7 linked regions of the Homo sapiens genome follow. The protein of the gene in region 5 purifies or fractionates together with the protein of the main gene of each other region. This does not show direct contact. Each region holds a gene or a part of one and is shown on either strand. Other genes may lie near its edges. The genes, in order: ITGB5, LRRC3, BACE1, DPY19L4, KLRC3, TCTN2 and PIGM.

What was found.
Region 1: the proteins of KLRC3 (region 5) and ITGB5 purify together in Homo sapiens (affinity purification with mass spectrometry; one large-scale study listed by BioGRID and IntAct). This does not show direct contact.
Region 2: the proteins of KLRC3 (region 5) and LRRC3 purify together in Homo sapiens (affinity purification with mass spectrometry; one large-scale study listed by BioGRID and IntAct). This does not show direct contact.
Region 3: the proteins of KLRC3 (region 5) and BACE1 purify together in Homo sapiens (affinity purification with mass spectrometry; one large-scale study listed by BioGRID and IntAct). This does not show direct contact.
Region 4: the proteins of KLRC3 (region 5) and DPY19L4 purify together in Homo sapiens (affinity purification with mass spectrometry; one large-scale study listed by BioGRID and IntAct). This does not show direct contact.
Region 6: the proteins of KLRC3 (region 5) and TCTN2 purify together in Homo sapiens (affinity purification with mass spectrometry; one large-scale study listed by BioGRID and IntAct). This does not show direct contact.
Region 7: the proteins of KLRC3 (region 5) and PIGM purify together in Homo sapiens (affinity purification with mass spectrometry; one large-scale study listed by BioGRID and IntAct). This does not show direct contact.

The regions. Positions count from the first base shown.
Region 1 is NC_000003.12:124,880,866-124,884,365, forward strand, and holds part of ITGB5 (integrin beta-5 isoform a precursor), read right to left. Parts: intron 996-3,500; exon of another isoform or gene 978-995; intron 1-977.
Region 2 is NC_000021.9:44,459,419-44,462,696, forward strand, and holds the end of LRRC3 (leucine-rich repeat-containing protein 3 precursor), read left to right. Parts: 3' UTR 1-2,778; downstream 2,779-3,278.
Region 3 is NC_000011.10:117,295,757-117,299,256, reverse strand, and holds part of BACE1 (beta-secretase 1 isoform A preproprotein), read left to right. Parts: intron 1-2,295; coding exon 2,296-2,384; intron 2,385-3,500. UniProt on the Homo sapiens protein: Responsible for the proteolytic processing of the amyloid precursor protein (APP).
Region 4 is NC_000008.11:94,740,400-94,743,899, reverse strand, and holds part of DPY19L4 (probable C-mannosyltransferase DPY19L4), read right to left. Parts: intron 1-3,500. UniProt on the Homo sapiens protein: Probable C-mannosyltransferase that mediates C-mannosylation of tryptophan residues on target proteins.
Region 5 is NC_000012.12:10,417,796-10,421,864, forward strand, and holds the start of KLRC3 (NKG2-E type II integral membrane protein), read right to left. Parts: upstream 2,801-4,069; 5' UTR 2,756-2,800; coding exon 2,569-2,755; intron 2,170-2,568; coding exon 2,071-2,169; intron 1,294-2,070; coding exon 1,249-1,293; intron 704-1,248; coding exon 549-703; intron 1-548. UniProt on the Homo sapiens protein: Plays a role as a receptor for the recognition of MHC class I HLA-E molecules by NK cells and some cytotoxic T-cells.
Region 6 is NC_000012.12:123,695,113-123,698,612, reverse strand, and holds part of TCTN2 (tectonic-2 isoform 1 precursor), read right to left. Parts: intron 3,394-3,500; coding exon 3,316-3,393; intron 2,199-3,315; coding exon 2,118-2,198; intron 1,527-2,117; coding exon 1,415-1,526; intron 1-1,414.
Region 7 is NC_000001.11:160,024,453-160,028,467, reverse strand, and holds the end of PIGM (GPI alpha-1,4-mannosyltransferase I, catalytic subunit), read left to right. Parts: 3' UTR 1-3,515; downstream 3,516-4,015.

The sequences.
Region 1 (3,500 bases), on a different chromosome or scaffold from region 5:
TTGCAGTGAGTCAAGATCACACCACTGTACTCCAGCCTGGGCAACAGAGTGAGACTCCATCTCAAAATAAAATAAAAAAGAAAGGGAAAAAGAAAAGAAAAAGTACATATGTAAAAGTTTGTTTGTTTGTTTGTTTGTTTGAGACAGAGTCTCTGTCTCCCAGGCTAGAGTACGGTGGTGTGATCTCAGCTCACTGCAACCTCGGCCTCCAAAGTTCAAGCGATCCTCCTGCCTCAGCCTCCTGAGTAGCTGGGATTACAGGTGCACACCACCATGCCTGGCTAATTTTTGTATTTTTAGTAGAGACTGGATTTTGCCATGTTGGCCAGGGTGGTCTCGAACTCCTGACCTCAGGTAATCTGCCTGCCTCGGCCTCCCAAAGTGCTGGGATGATAGGTGTGAGCCACCCTGCCTGGCCAAATCTTTTAAATAAAGTTTTTCTAAGCCCATTAAAATCCTGGGGTGAGAGAAGGGATCATCTGAGTACCAAGCATTGTGGCTGTGTCAGGGACACAGGTAAATAAGACCAGGGCTATTAACCAGGTAGCAGGTGAGACAGACCAGCTGCAGCCCCCAGTCTCTCTAATGGAATGGGCCATGAAAGCAGGAGGAGGAGGAGATAGTTCTGCTCCACCCAGGGATGTAGGGAAGGAGAACAGGATATACTGGGTATAAAAGATCAGAGGACTTGTTCTGTCACTTATTGGTTATGTGACCTAGGGCAAGTCACTTAACCTTTCCAGGCCTCAGCTTCCTCATGCAAACAACTCAGGGAGTAGACCAAATGGCCTCCATACCAGCTCAAAAAATCCTAACACAAAGCCAGGAGTGGTGGCTCATGCCTGTAATCCCAGCACTTTGGGAGGCCAAGGTGGGCAGATCACCTGAGGTCAGGAGTTCAAGACCAGCCTGGCCAACATGGTGAAACCCCATCTCTACTAAAAATTAAAAAATAAGCCAGGTGCGGTGGTGTACGCCTGTAATCCCAGCTACTCGGGAGGCTGAGGCAGGAGAATCGCTTGAACCTGGGAGGCAGAGGTTGCGGTGACCAGAGATTGCACCACTGCACTCCAGCCTGGGCAACAGAGTGAGACTCCAATTAAAAAAAAAATCCTGACACATTCCAACAGAATCTCTTTCTCCCAGGATGTTTCTTCCTAACAAGCCGCATGCATAGTCCCTGACTTCAAAGCTAGCTGTGGAAGGCAACAGGGAGTTGAGGACGGGATGCATCGCCCTCTTCACCTCCCAATTACCAAGATTCAGGTTCATCCATTATTCATTCAACAAATATGTGCCTGGTGCTGTTGTAGGCATGGAGGATACAGAGATGAATAAAACCAACAAGACTCCCTTATTCACGGAGCTCACATCCTGGCTGGGGGAGAATTCTACTTAGGGGAAATAGTGAAGAAGATATGTAGTTACATTAGATGGTGGTGAGTGCTAAGGACAAAAATTAAAGAAGAAAAGCAGATAAAAAGAACTCGGGATATAGGGAGGAGGTTGCAGCTTTAGCTGGGAGCGGCCAGGGAAAACTTGGCTGAGCAGGAGATGCTAGAAAAAGGGTTGCAGGGTGGAGGAAGCCGGTCATGCAGATATCTTGGAGGACAGTATTCCAGGCAGGGAGAAGGGCTGCCATGGGAGCATGGCTGGCACGCTGAAGGGACAGTGGGAGGCCCATGCTGCTGGAGCAAAGGATCGAAGGGAAAGTGGTGAAGGAAAGTCAGAGAAGTAGGTGGAGAGTTCGTGGAGCCTGGCAGGACTCTGGGAAACCATTCGAAGGTTTTAAGCAGAGAGATATGATCTGACTTGAGTTGGATCTCAGGATCACTCTGAGGGACAGTTGAGAATAACTAAAGAGAACAAGTTGCAGAAGTAGGTCCCAGCTCTACAAGAGACAACCAGCTCTGAAAATGTCTGGCTGGAGTTGGGGAGGGAATCCTATAAAGAGAGGGCAGGGTACCCCGCAGTGCCTTCAAAGCATCAGCCTTAGGGGATGAGTCAAGCCTGTCTTAGAGCAAACTTTTCACCATGAGGCCCGGGAAGTAAACCCTGCATTCAACGGAAGCAAGAAGCCTCAGAAACAAATGGGTGCCTCTAAATAAAGCATTCCTTTACATTTATAGAGGCCATTAATCCCATTCGAACCGGAAAGAAGGAAAACAAACCACGGCAGTCAGTTCTCCAAGGCCCTCGGCTCCAGCCAACTGGAAATACCTGTGAAAAGAGACCCTATCCCATTAACCCAGCTGCACACTGCCATGTGAAAGGGGCCCTATTATTTAAGTAGTTTGTAATTGTCCCACATTACTGATATCGTTAAAGCATCTCAGAATATTTCCATGGCCAGGCTGAATAAGAAAAAGTAGTTACCAGGCCACGCAGGCACAAAAGGCCTTTTGCCAAACTACTTAGATATTTTAATTCCCCGTTGCCTCAGTAGCTAAATAAGCATGGAGAACAAGCAGGCGGGGAATACTAATTAGAGCTAATTAGACCCTGCCCTCTTCTGCCTCAATCCCCTTTATAAAAAGCTCCCCCAACTCAAGGATGATGGAGTTAAAATGTAAATCCATAGGATAAACAGCAGTCTACAGACCAAACCCACTGTTTGTATTTCATTGTCCTGTCAGCTCTAAACCTGTGCCTGGTTACCTACAGAGAGCTGCAGACCCAGCCAAATTCCAACAACCCCATCACAGACCACAGGAAATGTGGTAGGGGGTTGGGGGTAGAGGAAGGGTGCTGCCAACATGAGTCCACTAAATAAAACAAAGGGCTTTCTTAGGATGTGCAGAGCATTCACTAGAAGAACATTCGATTGCTTTTTTAAAAAGAAATGAATGTGATAGCACACATAATTCCAGCGGTGTTGCAGGATCCTCTTTATAAGACGGTGTTCCTCTCTCTGTCTTAGCAAAGGCAGCGTGGAAAAGCCTCACCTCAGTGAGACCCCTGGTTTTGTGGGAAGACCACATCCTAGGATTCTGTCTGAAGGCTCTTGGCCATAAGATAATAAAAAGAGCAGGAGATAGCCCTTGGTGGGGACGGGAGGGGGTTGTCAGCCGGCCAGGGACTTGTTTGAAATGAGCCCCTGAAACCTAAGGTCAGTTTCCTGCTGGAAATCCGTACTGAGATGAAAGTGGGGTTAGAGCAACAGAGAGAGGCACTCAACCACTGGTCCAGGAACACCCAGGCAGGCATGGCCCTGAGGGTCATCTCTTTCTTTTCTCTGAGTAACTAGGTTTTTTTCTTTCAAATAATGTTCCTAGTGGCAAGACAGAAACACTCCCTGAATAAAGTACCTGTAGTGCTTCAAGAAAACAAAGAAGGGAAGGGAAGCAAAAAAAAAAAAGAAAAAAAAAAAGAATGTTGAAGTTAATTCAGCAACACTGAAAAACTAGGAGAAATGACACAGATGTGAGTCAACCTCTGCTAATCCTGAGAAGCTTCAGGGCCCTAAGAGGTAAGCAGCAAGTTCTGGAGGCCAGTGCCAT
Region 2 (3,278 bases), on a different chromosome or scaffold from region 5:
GATGCAGGTAGGGCAGGTGAACTGTTGCTGGCCTGGCCAGCAGGCCTAGGGTCACATGGTGATTGGCGTCCTCCTGCCACCCCTTCTCCATGCCAGGGTGCCTGTGGTGGGTTTGCCCAGCACGCATGACCCCAGGTCCCAAGGAGAGTGTGAACTGAGGCCTGGGTGGTGAAGGCAGGGCCTCTCCTCAGCCCTGTGTCCTGTGGGTGCCAGCCAGTCCCATCTCGCATTTTGGGGTGCCCTTTCCCTGCTGCCAGGGGACTCTTCATTTGTCCTTACCCTAGAATCAGCCCAGACACTGGACATCACCCAGACGTGGCCCTTCAGGAGGTGCACAGGGCAGGGGCAGGCCCGTCCCTCCCTGCCCCAATTTGCTGGGCTGCCTCAGCCCAGGGTCTGGCCTTCTCCTTGGTGAAGGTCTGCTGGGCCCCTGTCCACCTCCTGCTGGGAGGAGGAGATGGGGAGAGGACCAGGAGGACACCGGAGGCCCTGTCCCCTGCACTGTGAGCTCAGTCAGGTCCATGAGCTGCCCACCGTCCTGGCCTTACTGTGCCCCCTGCCCCACCAACATAGGTGAAAGCACCTCCCCTCTAAGGAAGACCATAGAGACCCCAACACTGTGGGACCCCAAAGCTCCTTCATGCTCACTGGAGCTCCCACCGTGGGTGCTTGCAAGTCCTCAGCGCTCCCGGGGTACAGCCCTCCCCTTCCTGCCCTCTAATGTCCTCCCCTCCCTTGCCCTTCCCTCCACTTCCTTTCTCTGCCGTCCCCTCCTCTCCCATCTTGTGACCTCTTTACTGGCGGGGCCTGGAGCCCATGATGGACACTTGCGGAAGGAGGGGTGGCGGAGCACCCCTGAGATGACATCGCTGCCTGCCCCAGAGCACCCCGCCTCTCCCTGTGACTCAGTTCTTTGCAGCCCAGATGTGAGCATGTGCACCCTGGGACCTGCTGCCCGTTGGGATGCCCAGGCCAAATCAGCCCCTCTGCCTCCATGCTGCACTGATTGCAAGAGTTTCCCACATCTGCAGAGGCCGTGGGCTCAGCCCCACACCAGCCAGGCCACCAGTGTTGATAGCGGTGAGGCGGGGACAAAGGGAATGTCTCAGTTCACAGTGTGGACATGGTGGAGGTCTCGGCCTTGCGAGACAAGGCAGGGGGAGGGGATAGGAAATTGGGGGTATTCTGTGACTCCTGGGCCACCGGGGAGCCAGAATCTTCCAGCCAGACTGGATGGGCAGGGCTTAGCTTCCTGATGCCGCCCATTCACCACTTTCACCCCGGGAACCTACCTGGGCATCATGGGAGGCAGAGCCTGAACCCCAACCCAACCCTAACTCTAATGCTAACCCCTAAACCATCCCCCACCCTAACCCAATCCTCGCCCTAACCCTAATGCTAACCCCTGACCCGACCCAATCCTAACCCTGATGCTAACCCCTGACTCAACTCTCACCCTAACCCTGATGCTAACCCCTGACCCAATCCTCACCCTAACCCTGATACTAACCCTTAACCTAACCCAACCCAGCCCTAACTCCAACTCTAAAGCTAACTCCTAACCCTAGGAGAGGAGCCCAGGCCGGGCCCTCTCCCTGCTGGTTTCCTGTTGGGCTTTGGAGCCCCAGATGCCTGCCCAGAGGCTTCCTTGTGCGGGGTGGGGTCCAGCAGTGGGGGATGGGCCCAGAGCTGGTATAGCCACCAGCAGAGCCATCCTGATCCACAGGACCATCCCTGGTGGGGTGGGGCCCCCTGGGGCAGGAAGGCCACTGAGGCCAGGGAGACTCCCAGGCCCACTCACGGCGCAGGCCCCACAGGAGCTGGCTGGAGGCTATGGGTGCGGGGCGTGGGCCTGCCGGGGGTTGCGTGACAGGCAGTGGGGAGTGGGTTGTGCTGGCAGCTGTGGGTGAGTGAGGAGGCTCCTCTCATGAAGGGCCCTGGGGAAGTGGAATCTGGCCCTGAGAGACCCCCGGCCTCCTCTGCAGGGGCTGCTGGCAGGAGGGGAACCGGGGACCACCTCCCGCCACAGAGCCTGGGGCCCCCAGCCTTGCCTACAGGGAGGGTAGATGAGAGTGTAAACTGCATATGAGGTTGGGCTAAACCTGGACATGTGTTTCATAACCAAAGCAGCCAGGAATCTCCGGCTCTGCCCAGTGATCATCTGGGCAGGACATGGGGACGAGTGTCCAGGCTGAAGTCAGGGCCCGGCCAGCAGAGGGCCATTTTGTATTGAGCTCCACAGCTGGTCACATTCTGTGGAATGTGCAGACGTGCACGGCCCATCAGACAGGGTCTGGAGTGGGGCTGCCGTCTTGGGCAGCTCCTCCCGGGTGTCTGCAAAATGCAGAGGTCACCAGAGCCAAGGCAGCAAGGCAAGGAGCCCGGCTTCTAAGGAACTCTGAGCAGGTGTGGTCCATGGCTGGGAGGCAGCTGGCCCCACAGCACATAGCACGGAGGGCGGCGCGGAGTCCTGGACGCTCTTGGCAGGTCCCCTCATGGAGGATGTGGGGGATTGGCTTAGGCCTGGTCTGGCTGGCCTTCCTGGACCGCAGTGGCCAGGAGCTGAAAACCGTGACCCCAGTCTCCCTGCAGCTGTTCTTGATGGGATTTCTGTTCGCCAGTCAGATGCATTTGCACAGGACTTGGATCCTGAACTGTGTAACCTGGAGAGGCAGGTGTGAGCGGGCCATGCTGCTGGCCCAGCCTGTGCCGGTGTCTGTTTCTGTTGTCTCTCGGCCCTTCTGTGAGCCCTCAGTAAAGCTCTTCGTGCTTCAGTCAGCAAGTGTGGATTCTGTCGTCGGCAACTCTGCGGCCCAAACCCCGAGCCTCCCCCTCCCCCAGACCTTGCAGTGCCATGGAGCTGAGGGACCTGTGGATCCACAGCTGTGGCCCCGGAAGGGCTGCAGGAGCTGAACCTGCGTGAGCCCCGCAGAGGGTGCAGAGCCGGCTTGTGCAGGCTCCCAGCAGGCTCATGACAGCGCGGATGGTTAAATGTAGCTCCTGACAGCCAACTGTTAAGGTTTCAGGCATTTTTGCACCAGGTGACATGATGGTAGCCTGAACGTGACCTTGGCAGCAGTCTCTACATCAAGGAAACTGGCAAATGTCAACATGCTGGGTACCCTCGCTCCTGCCGCCGCAGGCTGTCAGTGTCTTCCAGCCCACACTGCGGGGGGCCTTGTTGTGTGGCTGCCTCCCAGGCTGGGGCGAGGGTCTCCAGAGACCACCATCGTGCAGGCTCTTGGTCAATAGCAGGGTGTGGTGCTCCTGCCAGGGGA
Region 3 (3,500 bases), on a different chromosome or scaffold from region 5:
AGATGCAACTTACAAATTACCATTTTTCTGAGGGTGGGGCCTTTCCTTTTTTTGCCTGTGAGGATATAGTAGACTTTCAAAAAATGGCTCTGGTCTGACTGAAGGTGGGGTCAGGCCATCAAAGGAGGAAGAAAGGGCCAAGGAGAAGTGATGCTAGAGGCCGGGCATGGTAGCTCACGCCTCAGCACTTTGGGAGGCCGAGGCAGGTGGATCACCTGAGGTCAGGAGTTCGAGACCAGCCTGGCCAACGTGGTGAAACCTCGTCTCTACTAAAAATACAAAAATTAGCCCTGCGTGGTAGCGCACACTTGTAATCCCAGCTACTCAGGAGACTGAGACAGGAGAATCACTTGAACCCAGGAGGCGGAGATGGCAGTGAGCCGAGATCGCGCCATTGCACTCCAGCCTGGGTAACAAGAGCGAAACTCCATCTCAAAAAAAAGAAGTGATGCTAGAAAGAGCTGGACAGAAGGGAACACCAAGACACCTGTCCATCTTCACTTAGCCAAATCCAGGGCCCTGACAAGATGGGTTTTCACCAGGACATTTTATGGGGCTCCTGGCTCCCCACTATTTCTGACAGTAGGATTCCTAGGTCTGTGTCACCTGTGAGACAGAAGGGGAGCCACATTCTGGTGGCAGGGACAGAACCACACGCATGGACACTGATGTGCCATCCTGGTCCCCACAGGTCCCCTGACCAGTACAGCTCCTAGAATAGGTCTTCTCTGAGCTGGAGGGGATAAGCCAGACTGCTTCCTGGGAGAATTGAAAAGGAGCAGGGGGCCCTGAAGACAGAATCAGTCAGGTACACAGTGAGCAGGGGTGATGTGACGGTAGAGAGACATGGGAACAGAGACAGCACACACACCACATAGCTCTGAGATGACGCACAAAATGTTATGACTCCATAGACTGAAGCAGACACAGCGTTTCTTTTCTTTTCTTTTTTTTTTTGAGACGGAGTGTTGCTCTCGTCCAGGCCGGAGTGCAGTGGTGTAATTTCGGCTCACTGCAACCTCCGCCTCCTGGGTTCAAGTGATTCTCCTGCCTCAGCCTCCCAAGTAGCTGGGATTATAGGCGTGCGTCACCACACCCGGCTAATCTTTGTATTTTTAGTAGAGATGGGATTTTACTACATTCACCAGGCTGGTCTTGAACTCCTGACCTCAAGTGATCCACCCGCCTTAGCCTCTCAAAGTGTTGGGATTACAGTTGTGAGCCACTGTGCTGGCCTCAGACACAGCATTTCTAAGGCCATGTTGAGGGTGCCAAAGGAAACCAAGATATTTTACCCCAGAATATACTACTTTGACGTATTTTGAGTCGGCTGTCAGAGGGCCAGCACACAGAAGTGGCCCTGCAAATCTGGCTTTTGAGGGAGATTTGCATCTGCAGAGAATCTGCATTGATGCAACCTGGCTTTCTCTGAGGCCCTCCCTGGTCCAAATCTAGGAAAGATTAACTGAAAGTCTGACATGTTTAAAGGTCTGAAAGACACATACATCACCTGTTTTCTCTGAGGGGTGTTACCTATGAGGTTTCATTCATATAAAAAGACCACTTTTACTGGCCTGGCCTCCGTTTATCCCTCCCATAACTATTTTTGCCAAAGTCCAAGTCCCTTTTTTTTTTGTTGTTGAGACAGGGTCTCTGTCGCCCAGGCTGGAGTGCAGTGGCATGGTCTCAGTTCACTGCAACCTCCACCTCCCAGGGTCAAGTGAGTCTCATGCCTCAGCCTCCTGAGTAGCTGGGACTACAGGCATGTGCCACCATGTCCAGCTAATTTTTGTATTTTTAGTAGAGACAGAGTTTCGTCCTGTTGGCCAGGCTGGTCTCAAACTCCTCACCTCAGGTGATCCACCTGCCTCAGCCTCCCATAGTGCTGGGATTACAGGGGTAAGCCACTGCACCTTGCCCAAGCTCCCATTCTTTCTGTAACCTCAAGATGGTATAAAATCATCAACCATCTGGCTATCTCTTTGACTTCCTATATTTTTTTGACTCCCTTGCATATTAGTTCTTCTACTAATCTGCCTTTTTTCAGTTGGTTTTTCAGCAGACCTGCAGAGGGCACAGGGGAAGTGTTCCTTTGGCCCCTGCAGCACCACAGGACCCCAGGTCCTGTCTGTGGTCGTGGTGGTAACGGGTGCCAGCCTGGACCAGTCCTGCATCGTGGAGCTTCACTCTGGACATTCTAAGGGGCAGACTGTGGCTGGGGCGTGAGGGATAATAAAGGTGGTGTGACCGAAGCCTCCTGTCTATACTGTCTTTTCTCTCCCCTTTCTCTGACAGCTCAACATCCTGGTGGATACAGGCAGCAGTAACTTTGCAGTGGGTGCTGCCCCCCACCCCTTCCTGCATCGCTACTACCAGAGGCAGCTGTGAGTCCTGGGGAGAGCCCGGGGGAAGTACCTTTTCCAAGGATCCAGGGCTAAGAAGGGTCAGGGGAGGGGTACAGAGAGAAAGAGTTGATCCTCAGATTTTCTTCTTGCCAGGGAAGGGGAAGGGCGAAAAAAAGACAGTGACCAGGAGAGACAGGGTGAAGTGGGTGGTGAGAGGAGCTATACCATGGGAAAGGGTGAATTGAGAGGTAGCCAGGAAGTGCTTCAGTGCTGAGACAGGGCAGCCTCCTGTGGGAGGGAAAGGAAGAAGAGCCCATAGCTCACAGAACAATCTTAGGGGGCCCATTTTCTCTGCCTGAATGGGGAGACGAAAACCCCACATCCCCTCGGTGTCTCTCAGTTCTCTAACACCAGCTAAGTCTAAGCTGAACAGGCCTCAGTGACGGCTCCCCTTGCTGTGTTCTTACCCAGGGGCCACTCTAGGTGGCTTTGCATAGTCCAAGGACATGAAGGAAAGGGTCTTTCATAAACCCCTCTGCCTAGACCAGTATCAGAACTGAAAGCTGAAATATCTCCTCCATGCACCACCCAGGGTGCCACCAGTTGGATTCAGCTTACTGGTGAAAGGGGGGTTGAAGAGGACTGGTGAAAGTGGGGGACTGGTGAAAGGGGGGTTGAAGTGGGCTTTAAGATAAGAGGCAGTGAGGGGTAATCTGGAAGCCCCCTTAGCATAAAAGCAGGAAGAAGAAGGGATGAGAGGACACCAATATCTGAGACATCAGTGTGTGCAAACGTGAGTAGAGGCTTAAATCCTATCCTTGGACTTGTAGGCAGCTGCAAAACGCACCTTCCCTGTTTCCTCTAATGTCCCAATCTAAAAGAAGCAGTCAGGGAGGAGGGTGCAGGTAGGATCGATGAAAGGGCATTCACTCCAGTTCCTCGTTCCAGTTCCATCACTGCCCCCACCACACACAGAAGCCCTGGTTAGTGGTGTGATTAAACACAGGTGGGGCTGCCACATGTTGAGCACGTTTCACAGAAGTGGTGTGTAATACCAACCTGCTTTTCTGAGATGCTTGAACAAACCCCTTCTCTAGAACTTGCTGTAGAGGTTCCACATTCACCCTGCCTGGCACTTTCTCTACCACTCGGATG
Region 4 (3,500 bases), on a different chromosome or scaffold from region 5:
TGAGTAGCTGGGACTATAAGCACCTGCCACCACATCTGGCTAATTTTTGTATTTTTAGAGGAGATGGGGTTTCACCATGTTGGCAAGGCTAGTCTTGATCTCCTGACCTCAAGTGATCCACCCGCCTCAGCCTCCCTAAGTGTTGGGATTACAGGCGTGAGCCACTGCACGCAGCCAAGAAAGCAATCCTTTTAGAAAGTCTATATTTTAAATAATACAATAATCATTTGTATTAAATACAACTTCATTCATTCATTTATTTTTGAGACAGGGTCTCTCTCTGTCACCCAGGCTGGAGTGTATGGCACAGTCAATAGCTCACTGCAGCCTCAGGCTTAAGTGATCCTCCTGCCTCAGCTTCCTGAGTAGCTGGGATTGCAGGCACACACCACCAAGCCTGGCTATTTTTTTTTTTTTTTTAAGTAGAGATGATGAGGTCTCACTATGTTGCCCAGACCGGTCTCAAACTCCAGGTCTCAAGTGATCCTCCTACCTGGGCCTCCCAAAGTGCTAGAATTATAGGTGTGAGCCACTACACCTGACCCCACTTCACTTTAAAATACAAGAATTGGCTAGACACAGTGGCTCACGCCTGTAATCCCAGCACTTTGGGAGGCCGAGGCGGGTGGATCACTTGAGGTCAGGAGTTCAAGAACAGCCTGGGCCAACATGGCAAAACCCCCACCTCTATTAAAAATACAAAAATTAGCTGGGTGTGGTGGTGGGCACCTGTAATCCCAGCTACTCAGGAGGCTGAGGCAGGAGACTCACTTGAATGCGGGAGGCAGAGGTTGCAGTGAGCCGAGATTGTGCCATTACACTCTAGCCTGGGCGACAAGAGCAAGACTACATCTCAAAAAATAAATAAATAAATAAAATAAAATAAAAGACTTTTGGTGGGGCATGGTGGCTCATGCCTGTAAGCTCAGCACTTTGGGAAGCCAAGGCAGGCGGGTCACCTGAGGTCAGGAGTTTGAGACCACCCTAGGCAACATGGTGAAACCACAACTCTACCAAAAAATATAAAAATCAGCCAGGCATTGGCCGGGCGCGGTGGCTCACACCTATAATCCCAGCACTTTGGGAGGCTGAGGTGGGTGGATCACTTGAGGTCAATTCAAGACCAGCCTGGCCAATATGGTGAAACCCCATCTCTACTAAAAATACAAAAAAATTAGCTGGGCATTGTGGCATGTGCCTGTAATCCCAGCTACTCGGGAGGCTGAGGCAAGAAAATTGCTTGAACCTGGGAGGCAGAGGTTGCAGTGAGCCAAGATCGCGCCACTGCACTCCAGCCTGGGCAACAGAGAAAGACTCCATCTCAAAAAAAAAAAAAAAAATTAGCCAGGCATGGTGGCATGTGCCTGTGGTCCCAGCTACTGGGGAGGCTGAGGTGGGAGAATCACTTGCATCCATGAGCCAGAGGTTACAGTGAGCCAAGATCGTGCCATTGCACTCCAGCCTAAGCAACAGAGTAAGACTCTGTCTCAAAAAGAAAGTAAAAAAAAAAAATAAGTAAAATATAAGACTTTCTTTTTTTTTGAGACGGAGTCTCGCTCTGTCGCCCAGGCTGGAGTGCAGTGGCGAGATCTCAGCTCGCTGCAAGCTCTGCCTCCTGGGTTCACGCCATTCTCCTGCCTCAGCCTCCCGAGTAGCTGGGACTACAGGCGCCCGCCACCACACTTGGCTAATTTTTTGTATTTTTAGTAGAGATGGCGTTTCACCGTGTTAGCCAGGATGGTCTCTATCTCCTGACTTCGTGATCCACCTGCCTCAGCCTCCCAAAGTGCTGGGATTACAGGCGTGAGCCACCGCACCCGGCCATAAAATATAAGATTTTCTAAACCTAGTCTATGAGTATTATTATAACTTTCTGTCTTTCTAAAAATAAATCCTAATAGAATTTTAGAAAAGTACACAGCAACTCAAAATGTCCTGTAACAGGCACTTTCTGACATAACAAAAAATCATCTTGTCCTCCTAGTTGCCAGACTGGATTTTCTAATTCCATTCTATACTAAAAGGAACCAAAGCGCCAATGAGAAATGGCTATTTACAAATCTTCTGCAGCAAAAGTGCAAACCTACTCACCTTGTTGAGCCAGAAAACAAGAAAGCTTTCAAAGATTAACAAAGTTGTGTCAAAAGAACTCAGGAGCCGGCCTGAAAGGTACTCCTATTAACCAAGGGTGTGACAATTTGAGCAACAGAAGAACATTGATCAAAATGTTCTGAATCAATGAAATCAATTAAAATGAATCACTGAATCAATAAAAATCCATAAGTACAGAAAGATGCTTAGAAAAGAGAACACCAGAATCAAAGGTTTTTGTCACTGAGAAAGCTATTAAATTAATCTCTTATTTAGAAATTGGTAAATTGAAATTAAGCATTTGTCTTCACTTTCTAATAGTGACTTGAAGGTAACCAAAAAGCCCTGGTTAATGAGGAAAAATTCTACTTTTGAAGAATGAAGAATGTAGCTAATGAAAATAGAAAAATATAATTTTATAAAACCTAATAAAATTACTACTTTAAGGCAAAGGTTACAAACTGGTGTTACAACTGTTAGGTAAATGCTTAATGGTAAAAAGGACATTCATTTGGTGCTAAAAAACGCCACACAGATTATTCTCCAGTTATTAGAGAAAAACATAACTATTCAATGGAGAGATCTGACTGCCATTCCCCCAAACCAGTAGTCAATCTCAGCTTCACTAGGGGTTGATCAATTAACTATAATTTCTACTGTCATGGAACATGAAAAATATATAATCTACCATATATTTCAACCAGAACTGTTTATTTTGAACCCATCAAGCCTTTACACATAACTTTCAGATTACAGAAACACAGGAGATAAAGGTAAAAGCTAAATGACACCACAGGATGCAACAAGACTTAGTCTCTTCAACATAAAAAGGGGGACTATGTTAGATTTACAGAGTATTAAGGAACATAACAACCAGATGCACTATGGAGTCCTGGATTAAATCCTGATTTGGATAAATCAGCTATATAGAGTATTTTAGGGTCAACCAGGGAAACTGTAATAAGGTCTGGGTATTAGATAAGATAAAAAGTTATAGAAATGGAAAGGCAGTGACAGTTGAATAGAGAAAGCAGCATAAAAAAAACAGTATTGCAGCCGGGCGCAGTGGCTCACACCTGTAATCCCAACACTTTGGGAGGCCAAGGTGGGTGGATCACGAGGTCAGGAGATTGAGACCATCCTGACCAAGATAGTGAAACTCTGTCTCTACTAAAAATACAAAAAAATTAGCCGGGTTTGGTGGCGGGCGCCTGTAGTCCCAGCTACTCCCGAGGCTGAGGCAGGAGAATGGTGTGAACCTGGGAGGTGGAGCTTGCAGTGAGCCGAGATCGCACCACTGCACTCCAGCCTAGGTGACAGGGCAAGACTCCGTCTCAAAAAAATGAAAAACAAAAACAAAACCAAAACAAAACCAAAACAGTATTGTAAATAGACCTGATTTTGGTAAA
Region 5 (4,069 bases):
AGATAACCGCAATAATATGGAGGAATTCCACAAATATCAGATAGGAGTGAAAAAGACAGACATGAAATTCACACTGTATAATTCCGTTTTTTATAAATTCAAGAACAGGCAAACCTTATTTATAACTTCAAAAGTCAAGACAGTGTTTTGGAGAGGAGTCAGGATAAGTGATGAGGGCATACACAGGGGTGGAACTGCTAGAGCTGGAAACTTATTTCATGATCTCACTTGTATCACATGAGATCATTCACTTTGTGATCAATCTGCATGACTAGATCATATCATGCTCAATAAAATTAAATAGTAAAATTTATTGTGGATTCAAAGCATTAATAGAAGCATGGTTTTCCATAAAAAGCAAAAACTGAAAATAAAAGTACATTAGCGGTATATAACTTTAAAAACATTATTAAGTCAATCAACTGAATAATGCATACACTTGAAAATATATAAGCTAAATATATGTACACACATATGGATGTTTTCTACAAATGTATTATTCACTGAAAGAAGCTTTTCATAAAATGTTTGAAACATTTACATCTTACCATTTCTTCTTCATTATCTATACAAAGCAGACTAGAAGAGTTCTTTGAAGCACAGGCCTGCAAACTCTCTTCCCAAGTTCTTCTTTCCTTACCAATGTAATAACAACTGTTGGAATATGTAATCCACTCCTCAGGACAATGGCCACAATGACGTGCTAATAAAGATATGAATTACTATCTAGACCAATATGAATTTTTAAAAATGAAAATTAGTTCACATATTTGCAACAGTATAAACATATATGTGCTTAACATATTTATGCATCCTTACAGGCTTATAAGTATATATTTTTTAATAACTGAGTCAGTCATACACACATACACAGAAAAGGGTTAGCCTCTCTCCCCTAATTGTGTTCCCATATAAAGCAAACCAACAAACAAAAATACACTCCACACATGTCTTGAACCTCACTGATACACAACTGCTTTTTTAGAATAGTAAAATTATTTATTTGGTATCATCTCACAGCAGTAGGAGACTTCTGTTAATTGGGAGAAAGAGGGTAGAATGATTTTAAGTGAGTATTTCTACTTACTGGAGAAAAGGAAATGCTGCCTCATAATCTTTCTTTATAAATATTTATGGCTGAATTTATGGCTTATTTTCTGCAAAAATGCCACTATTCTTTTACATGCCTTAAAACAGACACAAAATATAAATTGTACTAATATCAGAGCATTGAAAATAAAAATGTACCTTTCTGGGTTCTTGCATTCGGGGAAGAATTGTTCTGCTCCAGGACTGTAATAGAAAAATTAAAATGATTTTTATAAAAACTGATATCTAGATAAACCATAATGAGTTTAGTTTCTTACTTTGAAACTTTGTGTGTTATTTAAAATGGGGAGAATCTTTAATAAAATTAACTTTTTCTATAAAAATATATAAAGTAATAGACCTTTGAAATAAACATTTTTAAAGACTTTAGCACAAAACTTCACCATCTCTTGTAGTATTTGATGTAACCACTTTCAAAAATTAGTTTTTCTAAATACTTTTCTTCTATAGCATGCCTTTGAATTATGAAATCAGAAAATATCTTTGTGTGTGTATGTATATACATATATATAGATTACACACAAAAAATAAACACATGTTCTCTACAATGATTTTGTTATTTATGTTGTGAAAAATTCAGAATAACCATATTATTTTGGTTCCAAATTGTACTAATATCAGAACTTTGAAAATAAAAATGTACTTTTCTGGGTTCTTGTATTTGGGGAAGAATTGTTCTGCTCCAGGACTGTAATAGAAAAATTAAAATGATTTTTATAAAAAGTAATATTTAGATAAACCATAATGAGTTTAGTTTCTTACTTTGAAACTTTGTGTGTTATTTAAAATGGGGACAATCTTTAATAAAATTAACTTTTTCTATAAAAATAAATGAAGTAATAGATCTTTGAAAGAAACAGTAAAATAAGAGTTCTATTCTTCAACAGTATGAAATATTTTGAGGCACTTCCAAGCATTAAAGTAAAACGTTCCCTTCTAATCTTTCAAGAATATGCTTACAAGGAATAAGAACTATTGTTTTTAACACAGTGGCCATCAGGACAATGCAAATGATTCCTAGGACCTCGGCAGTGAGCTTTTCTGGAGGTGGCAGTAAACCTGCAGGGAGAGAAATAGAGGCACTGAGAGAGGGGAGATAGAGAGTTGATTAGGATTACATACTAGAGAATTACATACTAGAGAACCCACATGCACAGGGAAACATAATGATAAACTCTGGCCGCTAAATCTACATCTACTCTAGTAATCTTTCTCTCAGAATATACCATTTCATTTTCAGTAAATGTAATGTTCCATGAGTGGATTGCAGATTACAGTTGATTACAGTTGAACAATGCCTGAATAAAATTAGTCTTCTGATTTCATATTAGAATATTAGATCCCATTTATGAACTCTGATTCTCACAAGTGTAAAATATTCCCTAATCTTTCCTCACCCTTCTGCATTCAACTGCACATCCCAGAACAATAACATTGAAGATATATTTAATGTTTTACCTTGGCAGTCATATATTTTATCAATCCCTTGATGATTCAGAGAAGCATTTTGAAGGTTTAATTCTACTTGGAATATTTCCTGTTCGGTTCCTGAAATGGAGCTTTTATTGCCTTTAGGTTTCCTTTGCTGCCACTTTGGGTCCTGGGCCAGACTCACTTCTGAGAAGGTTCCTCTTTGTTTACTCATCTCTGCAGCTGTGTGATGTGAGGGACTGTGCTCTATGATAACTGCACTTAAGAAGCTATAAATGGTGTATATTTTGACAGGATCCCTGGTATAGGCAATGTGCATGTGTTGGGGCTGAGTAATAATGTTTACTTTGCTGTTAACCTAGGTAAAATTCTGCTACTAATTTCCTAAAGCTTTAAACAAAAATCACACGATATAATTGGCCATTTTTTAGATGTATTCTGTATTTGACATAATATTACTAGTGGGAACAATAAAAACATTAAACTTGTGAGAACTAGGAAGTTCATGAAAAAAATTGGTATTAAATTAAGGTTAGATTCTTCAAAAATGTTTAACACCAATAGACTGCATACTTTAACAATTAAAATACTGTATTTAGAAATACACTAATTTTACCATAGTTTTAAGAGTCATTGATGGTTAATGATTGTGTGCCATAAGATAAAATAGTTCTGTCAGCATACAGAGTAACTTCTTATACTAACATACATTGTTAGTGAGTTACATTCATTTATTAAAAGGACCTGAGGTATTGTCAACTGATTATTTTTCTAAATTAGGAAATCAGAAAAATCATTAAAATTTTAAAAATATATCTTGTAAAACATTACATTACTGTATGCATAAATACTATTGAAAACATAATATATTTTTAAATTGCTGCTTTTACACAAGAAATTGGTAATTGATTTAATGACTAAAATAGGAAAACTTAAAATGATAAATAAACGTGTGGGCCGTCTATGGAAGAATAGTGTCCAATCAAACTTTCAGAAAGCTCCTATGATTGTATAAGTCAGTGAGGGTCGCTTTGGTTGTATAAGTAATTGTAATAGTTCAGATAATGTAATTTAATAATCTAGTCAATGAGCTCTGTAGTCAGTGAGACTACAATTAATTCTAGCTTTGCAAGTTGTAATATGTGACCTGTACTAAATTACTTAGTGTCTACTAACCTAGTTTACTAATCTACATTGGGAAAAATAATTTATAAAGTATAATGTATGTAGAAAACTAAACACACAACCTGGCACATATTAGCACTGAATACATAATAGATATTTCAACTATTTTTAACACAATTGCCATTTTATTATTTCTGATTTGCATTAGAGTGTGTTAAAATAACTCATTAATTAGGCGTCTCATGTCAGTGTGGTACATCTTTTTTGCAATGTTTGGTTCAATTGTTTTAAGTCTTCCAATTGTTTATAATTAAGGTCAGATTTGCATTTTATGGAAATGATTTCATCCTTACTTTTATTAAAAATTAAAACTGCTTTCATGAAATCTAGGTGTGTGATTGAG
Region 6 (3,500 bases), about 110 Mb from region 5:
CAAAAAATACGAAAAATCAGCCAGGCACACACCTGTACTCCAAGATACTCGGGAGGGTGAAGTGGGAGGATCACCTGAGCTCAAGAGGGTCAGGCTGCAACGAGCCGTGATCACACCACTGCGCTCCAGTCTGGGTGATGGAGTGAGACCTTGTCTCAAAAAACAAGCCAAAAAGAACGCATGCAATCAAAACCACAATGAGATACCACTTAGTATCTATTAGGATGGCTACTGTCAAAAAAAAAAACAAAAACAAAAAAACAAAAAACAAGGCTGGGCACAGTGGCTCACACCTGTAATCCCAGCACTTTAGGAGGCTGAGGAGGGCAGATCACCTGAGGTCAGGAGTTCAAGACCAGCCTGACTAACATGGAGAAACCCCATCTCTACTAAAAATACAAAATTAGCCAGGTGAGGTGGCACATGCCTGTAATCCCAGCTACTCAGGAGGCTGAGGCAGGAGAATCACTTGAACCTGGGAGGCAGAGGCTGCAGTGAGCTGAGATTATGCCATTGCACTCCAGCCTGGGCAACAAGAGTGAAACTCTGTCTCAAAACAAAAACAAAAACAAAAACAGAACATAGGCCAGCAGAGTGACTCATGCCTGTAATCCCAGCACTTTAGGAAGCCAAGGCAGGTGGAGGACCACCTGAGCCTGGGGAGGTTGGGGCTGCAGTAAGCCATGATTGCACCACTGCACCCGAGCCTGGGAAACACAGTGAGACCCTGTCTCAAAAAAAAAAAAAAAAAAGTTAATCACCCCAGTTACACTTTGCTCTGGCCTTTTTCATAGCTCTAGGAGTATAAGGTTCCAATGAGGCCAGGCGCGGTGGCTTACGCCTATAATCCCAGCACTTTGGGAGGCCAAGGTGGGCAAGGTCACTTGAGGTTAGGAGTTTGAGACCAACATTGTGAAACCCCATCTCTACTAAAAATACAAAAAAAATCAGCAGGCGTGGTGGTGCATGCCTGTAATCCCAGCTGCTAGGGAGGCTAAGGCAGGAGAATTGCTTGAACCGGAGAGGCAGAAGCTGCAATGAGCCGAGATCGCACCACTGCACTCCAGCCTAGGTGACAAAGTGAGACTTCATCTCAACAAAAAAAACCACACAACAACAACAAAAAAGGTTCCAATGAGCTGAACAAACTTTGGCAGAGACATTTGTTTAAATGTGGATGAAATTTGCTTAAATGTGGATGAACTGGCTTTAGTCCCAAGAAAAAGTTTATTTTCCCTCATATTGATGTTTGAATCAACTCTAAATTGTATTACATGTCTGTATTTATTATCACTTTTACACATTTTAATTGACTCTAATTTTTCATATTCATGCTGTCTTTGATATTCATGTAGTGAATTAATTCTAGGCAAACCATTCACATTGCCGATATATTCATCAATGAAACACTCACCTGAGCTGAGTACAATTTTCATTAATCCCGACTTCTAACAGGCATCCAGAGAGTACATTTTCTCCAAATAAAATGGGTTTGAAAGTTGCTGATGTACACAGACCCCTTCCAGCTATAAAAGAAAAAGATTATCCTCTTGCTACTTTTTGCTAAACAAAAGTAAAGATTAACTTCAGTTTTCCGTGAAAAACAGAAAACAGTAAGTAGAAATAAAGTTGCCAGTTTTCAAAAACTGAGATCACTGTTAGTCTAATCCTTTCAAAGCTGAACAAAGGTGCCTTTATCAGACTTCTCAGATCCTGAGCGGTGGTTTCTTCAGAAGTGACACTGCCTCTGGCAGGTGTGCGTAATTACCACTGAAGCACAGATTTCCTGCAGTTCAGAACGAAGTTATTTTCATGTCTCCAATTAGCACCATCCTGGGCTACAGGCAACAATAACATGGGACTCTCAAGCCAATCTCATATTTCAATCTTTTCTACTAGCAACCAGCACTTCAGGTGCAAACAATGTTAGCATTCCTTTTTAAAAAGCTGTAGAAGCAGGAAAAACCATCATCACTGTTATTCAGCAGCATGTACCTCTCTGCTAAATAAACCAACTAGGCTTTAAAATAATTGATTGCTTGATTAGATTCAAAATATGGTAATACTTCTAACACCAATTTGCCAAAGGGCTAATCATAATGACCAAACCGGATTACCCGATTGCCAAAGATGTAAAGTCGTGACATTATTCATCCTGTTGATATTTAGAGCTCGGACAGGCTTGCCAAGTTGGTAACCTAGACAAACACAACAAAGGAACGTGAGCCTGTTTCCTCCAGCATAGCAAGCCCTAACTCTGCAAATAATACAAGAGTCATGCACAAGGAAAGAAAACACATAGGCGAAGCTTTCGAAAATACCCTTGAGAGAAAGATGGCAACTTCGGGTCTCAAAAAAAACAGTAGCTAAAGAGAAAGAATGCTTCACATTTACAGCAACTTGTTACTATGTACAACAGACTATGTAAAAAAAAAAAATACATTGTTATCACAAAAAGAATACCATGTCGGCCAGGCGTAGTGGCTCACGCCTGTAATCCTAGCACTTTGGGAGGCCGAGGTGGGTGGATCACCTGAGGTCAGGAGTTCGAGACCAGTATGGCCAATATGGCAAAACCTCATCTCTACTAAAAGTACAAAAATTTGCTGAGGGTGTTGGTGGGCACCTGTAATCCCAGCTACTTGGGAGGCTGAGGCAGGAGAATTGCTTGAACCTGGAAGGTGGAGGTTGCAGTGAGCCCAAATCGTGCCATTGCACTCCAGCCTGGGTGACAAGAGTTAAACTCCGTCTCAAAAAAAAAAAAAATGAATACAGTGCCACAACAGAGAATAAAGAGGCTGGGGCAGTGGCTCATGCCTGTAATCACAACACTTTGGGAGGCTAAGGCCAGGGGATCACTTGAGGTCAGGAATTCAAGACCAGCCTGGCCAACACGGTGAACAACAGCCTATCTCTACTAAAAATATAAAAATTATATTAAAGTGAGCAACCCTGCAAGCCTCTCTTTGGAGAAGTAGCAGATGAATAAAACTTCCTGTGTTGTGTGATTAAAAAAAAAAAAAAAAAGCCAGGCATGGTGGTGTGCACCTGTAATCCCAGCTACTCAGGAGGCTGAGGCAAGAAAATCTCTTGAACCCAGGAGGTGCAGGTTGCAGTGAGCCGAGATTGCGCCACTGCACTCCAGACTAGGCAACAGAGCAAGACTCCGTCTCAAAAAAAGAAAAAGAGAAAATAAAGAAAAAGGTCAGAGTCAGAAACTAAATTGGAGAGAGTTACTTATAACCATCCTGATGGCTGGGAGTGTTGAACTAAAGTATGTTTGTAAGATCAATGACTGGCATATACTCATCTTACCTGGATTTCCAGATAATTCTTCTTCATTACCACTATTATAGCTTAAAAATTTTACTACAAATCTCTGTGTCATTATCCCTAGAAATAAAACAAAATAAAATATAATGTGCACCATTTCACTAGGAAAAGAAATTATTCTCCATAGTGTTTACCTTAAAATTGCATTTTGTCATACAAAGTGTACT
Region 7 (4,015 bases), on a different chromosome or scaffold from region 5:
TTTGGGGTAAAAATAGCAGAGTCAGTTGCTGAGGACAATGACCTTCCTTATAACATTTAGTTTCATACCCATATTAGGTCTTGTCTTGAGGACCCTTTATATGTGCTTGTTTACTAGTGGCCTTCCAGCCATAGCATTCTTACCTTTTTTTCCTATTCTAAGAATTAAAAAAAAAAATTATAGAGCCAGCAAGGGAGGAGGCAGGAAACAGAAATCGAATTTCATCATTCCAGTATAGTTGTCCCTTTTTTTGTATTTCTGACTTGGTTTTATAATTATATTTACTTACTAATTATTGTTTTTTAACATTCTTTATTGTGGCTTACTCTTCATACTTAGAATTGAAATTGTTGGACATCACATGTATATTCACATTATAAATACATCATTCTTCCACTGTTAGACCTTTAGATTGCTTCCAGTTTTTAATATTCTAAATAAGACTTTCAACATTTTCTGTGTTTTAGCTCATTCTCTTAGGACATTCTTAGAAGTTAGAAACATTTCTGCTGGGATCGTTGGAGGGAACTTCAAACTTTGGAATCTTTCCTGCAAGAAATTCTTTACCAAAGAAAGGCAGGTGTTTCTTAAAGGGATGCAAAAGATATTTTGCACTTTGTATGTTCCAAAACATTTAGTAAGTTAACTAAAAAAATGAGTTAATTTGGTTTCTTGGGGGATTTTAATTTTTTAATTTGTTTTCTGGTTATGTAAAAAAAATGTTTTTTTTTTGCTTCTTATCACAATCCTTTTGTTTCCTTTTTAATCCTTTAATAACACCTTCAAATTTTATAAGACTTTGGCTTATTTCCTATATAATTCTTTTTTTCTTATACCACCTCTTAAGATTGATATGTTCATTTGCAGGTAAGCATTAATTATTAGATAAAGAGGGATGATTCTCAAGATTGTGTGTGTTCTGAACAGAGGGAACTACATGACATTTTCTTCTGTAATTGCCTTTGTAACGTCTTTAGAATGTGGTTCCTAAATATTCCTGGATAAATTCTCTTGATAGGCCCATTGGAAAGGCTAATACTCCCACCCAGTGCTTTGTTCCTTCCTGGCAAAAGAATTCCTAAAACCACTGATTTTAGTTACTGACTTCTCACCATCTGGACTCTTACAAGATGTTTCAGAAGTTGTGTAGAACTTGTCTTTCAGTTGACTTGTGGCTGAATTTACTGTTACTTCTCTAATATCAGTTGTTTTCTGCATTACCACCCTCTCCCCTAACCATCTGTACTATGAATGGAAAAGGAAAAAGATGGAAAAATTATACCTAGGATTGTCCCTAAATGCAACCTCTTGGTTCCCCCCACCCCTCATGTTTTATTATAAACGATTTTAAGAGCTGGGCATGGTGGTTCATGCCTATAATCCCAATGCTTTGGGAAGCTGAGGCAGGAGGATCACTTGAGGACAGGAGTTTGAGACCAGCCTGGACAACATAGTGAGACCCCCATCTGTACAAAAAAAAAAGTGCTACTTGGGAAGCTGAAGTGGGAGGACCACTTGAGCCCAGGAATTCGAGGAGGTTATAGTGAACTATGATTGTGCCACTGCACTCCAGCCTGGGTGACAGAGCAACACCTTGCCTCTAAAACAAACAGCTCCAACTATTTTATTTTTTTATTTTTCTGAGACAAGATGTTGCTTTGTCACCCAGGCTGGAGTGCAGTAGTATAAACATGGCTCACTGCAGCCGAACTCCCAGGCTCAAGTGATCCTTCCTCCTCAGCCTCCCAAGTAGCTGGGACCACAGGTATTTGCCACCATGCCTGGCTAATCTTTATTTTTTGTAGAGACGAGGTCTTGCTATGTTGCAAGAGGGAGATCACTTAAGTGATCTTCCCTCATTGGCTTCCCAAAGTGTTGGGATTCCAGGCGTGAGCCACTGCACCCCGCCTGACCTAACTATTTTAAACACTACTCATATTGCCATCATCTAAATTCAACAACAATTTGCCATATTTGCTTTATGTATATGTATAATTATATATTTATAAAATTTTTTGAACCATGTGAAGTTGCAAACATCATTGAACTTCACCACTAAATATATCAGCATGCATCTCCTAAAAATCAGGTATTTTCTTACAAAACCATAATTCTGCTATCTATTATGATTTAACATTCTGTCATTTTCAAATTTCTTCAGGTGTTTTTTGTTACATCTTAAAGAACAGACGTTCTTGGATCTCAAAGATTCCGAGGAAGGAAAGAACATGGTGGATAATCCATAATTAAGAAGTTTGAATCTTTTCCTAGTCTTAAAAACAAAGTGAGAACTAAAGGGGTTTACCTTCCATCAAAGTTGAACAAATTAATTCTTTTGTGTGTCATACTTTCTGTCTCTCTCCCTAAAAACATGGGGGTGGTAATCTCTTTGTTTTATCTGGTAGGTTTTCCAGATAAAAGATTATACAGGTTTGGAATCTTAATATCCAACCCCCAACTCCAAGCCCTGCCCCAACAACAACAGCTAATTATTTTACATCTTGATGATGGTAAATTTTTCATGATTAACCAATTTTGGGCACCTATTCCGCCATATATGGTTTTATTTAATTTTCACAGCAACACTTCAAAGTTGATATTCATATTCTAAATTTATAGATGAACGAAGAGGCTCAAAGATTAAACAACTTGCTAATAAGTGATTTTTACCCATGCTTTTTCCATTATATTATGTTTTGGATTTTTCCAGAGTACCCAAACCCAGCAGATGCATACTGCTCCAAAATAAATGGAACTCAATACTGGCTCTGTCAAGTGTCTCTTGCCAATCAATTGTCCTTCTAATCTTTTGAGGGGCAGTTCTCTCAGTTGTACCAAGTCACTGTCATCCCCAAACTTTTCAATGATTCCAGGCCTTTAACAACTCCCCTCCACCTCCAAACCCTCTCTCACCAAATTGTGTAATTTCTTTGTTTACTGCTGGCTTCATCATGCACTTTTCCTTCATAGCCTATTTTAAGAAGTTGATTTGCTGAACTGCTTTTTAGCCAAGCTATTTGTAAATCAAGCTACACAAAGTATGTGGCCATAATTTCCAAAAGGCAAATGATCATTGTTCAATTGCTGTTGCTCTGCAGTGTGCATTCATGCAGTTAAAAATTGTACTGCATTGATAGTACGGCATCAGAGAATAGATCACTTAGGTTCAAATCCCAGTGCATGATCCTGAGCAAGATTATCATATCTAGATACATTAGTTTTTATCTGTGAAATGGGAATGATAGCACAATCTTCATAGAATTGTTGGTAAGGATTAAGTGAGTTGATATGCTCAAAGTGTGCATGCTGGCATAGAACAAGTCACTGTTTACAAGCCTTTAAAGAAGGAGCTGTTCTGGCACTGTAAACTTGAACCTTTTTTCCCCAAATCTAATGGATATAGGCAAGGAAATTATATTTATATAAAATAAATGTTTGACTACCTTTGATCATAAACTTTATTCTCATCTTGACCTGTTCCTTTGAAAAGATAATAAATACTGATATGTGAAAAATGTATGGACAGATTATTCAGATGTCTGGTTGAGGCTTTACAGTTTTGTATATTTCTGTCAGACATTAAGCTGACTCTAAGCAGTGGAGGTTTGGTTTATGCCCCTAAATTACACAGCACTTCTTTTCTCCATTGTATCGAGGGGTCATTCAGGGGTTGCTGTTCTGGAGATGGAAGCACATGTCTCCTGCCTGGGTCAGAAGCGTCACAATAGCACAAGCATTTATTCAGCACTGGCCTAGGAGAACCATTCATTTAGTCAAAACAAGCATTTATATTCATTATCCTGAACAAAAACCAGACTAAATGAGAACATTTATAGCTGCTCAGGCACTCTGCTAATTGCTATGTCTGCTAGACAAAGTGAAATGACACTTACAGTGACTATTTAAAAATAATTTGGAGCATGAATATTTGAAGCTCAGTTCTTTTTACAAAGGAAATGTATAACCTTTGCTCTTCATTTTTTTTGGCAGTTATTTATAGATCCAGGCCCTGTGT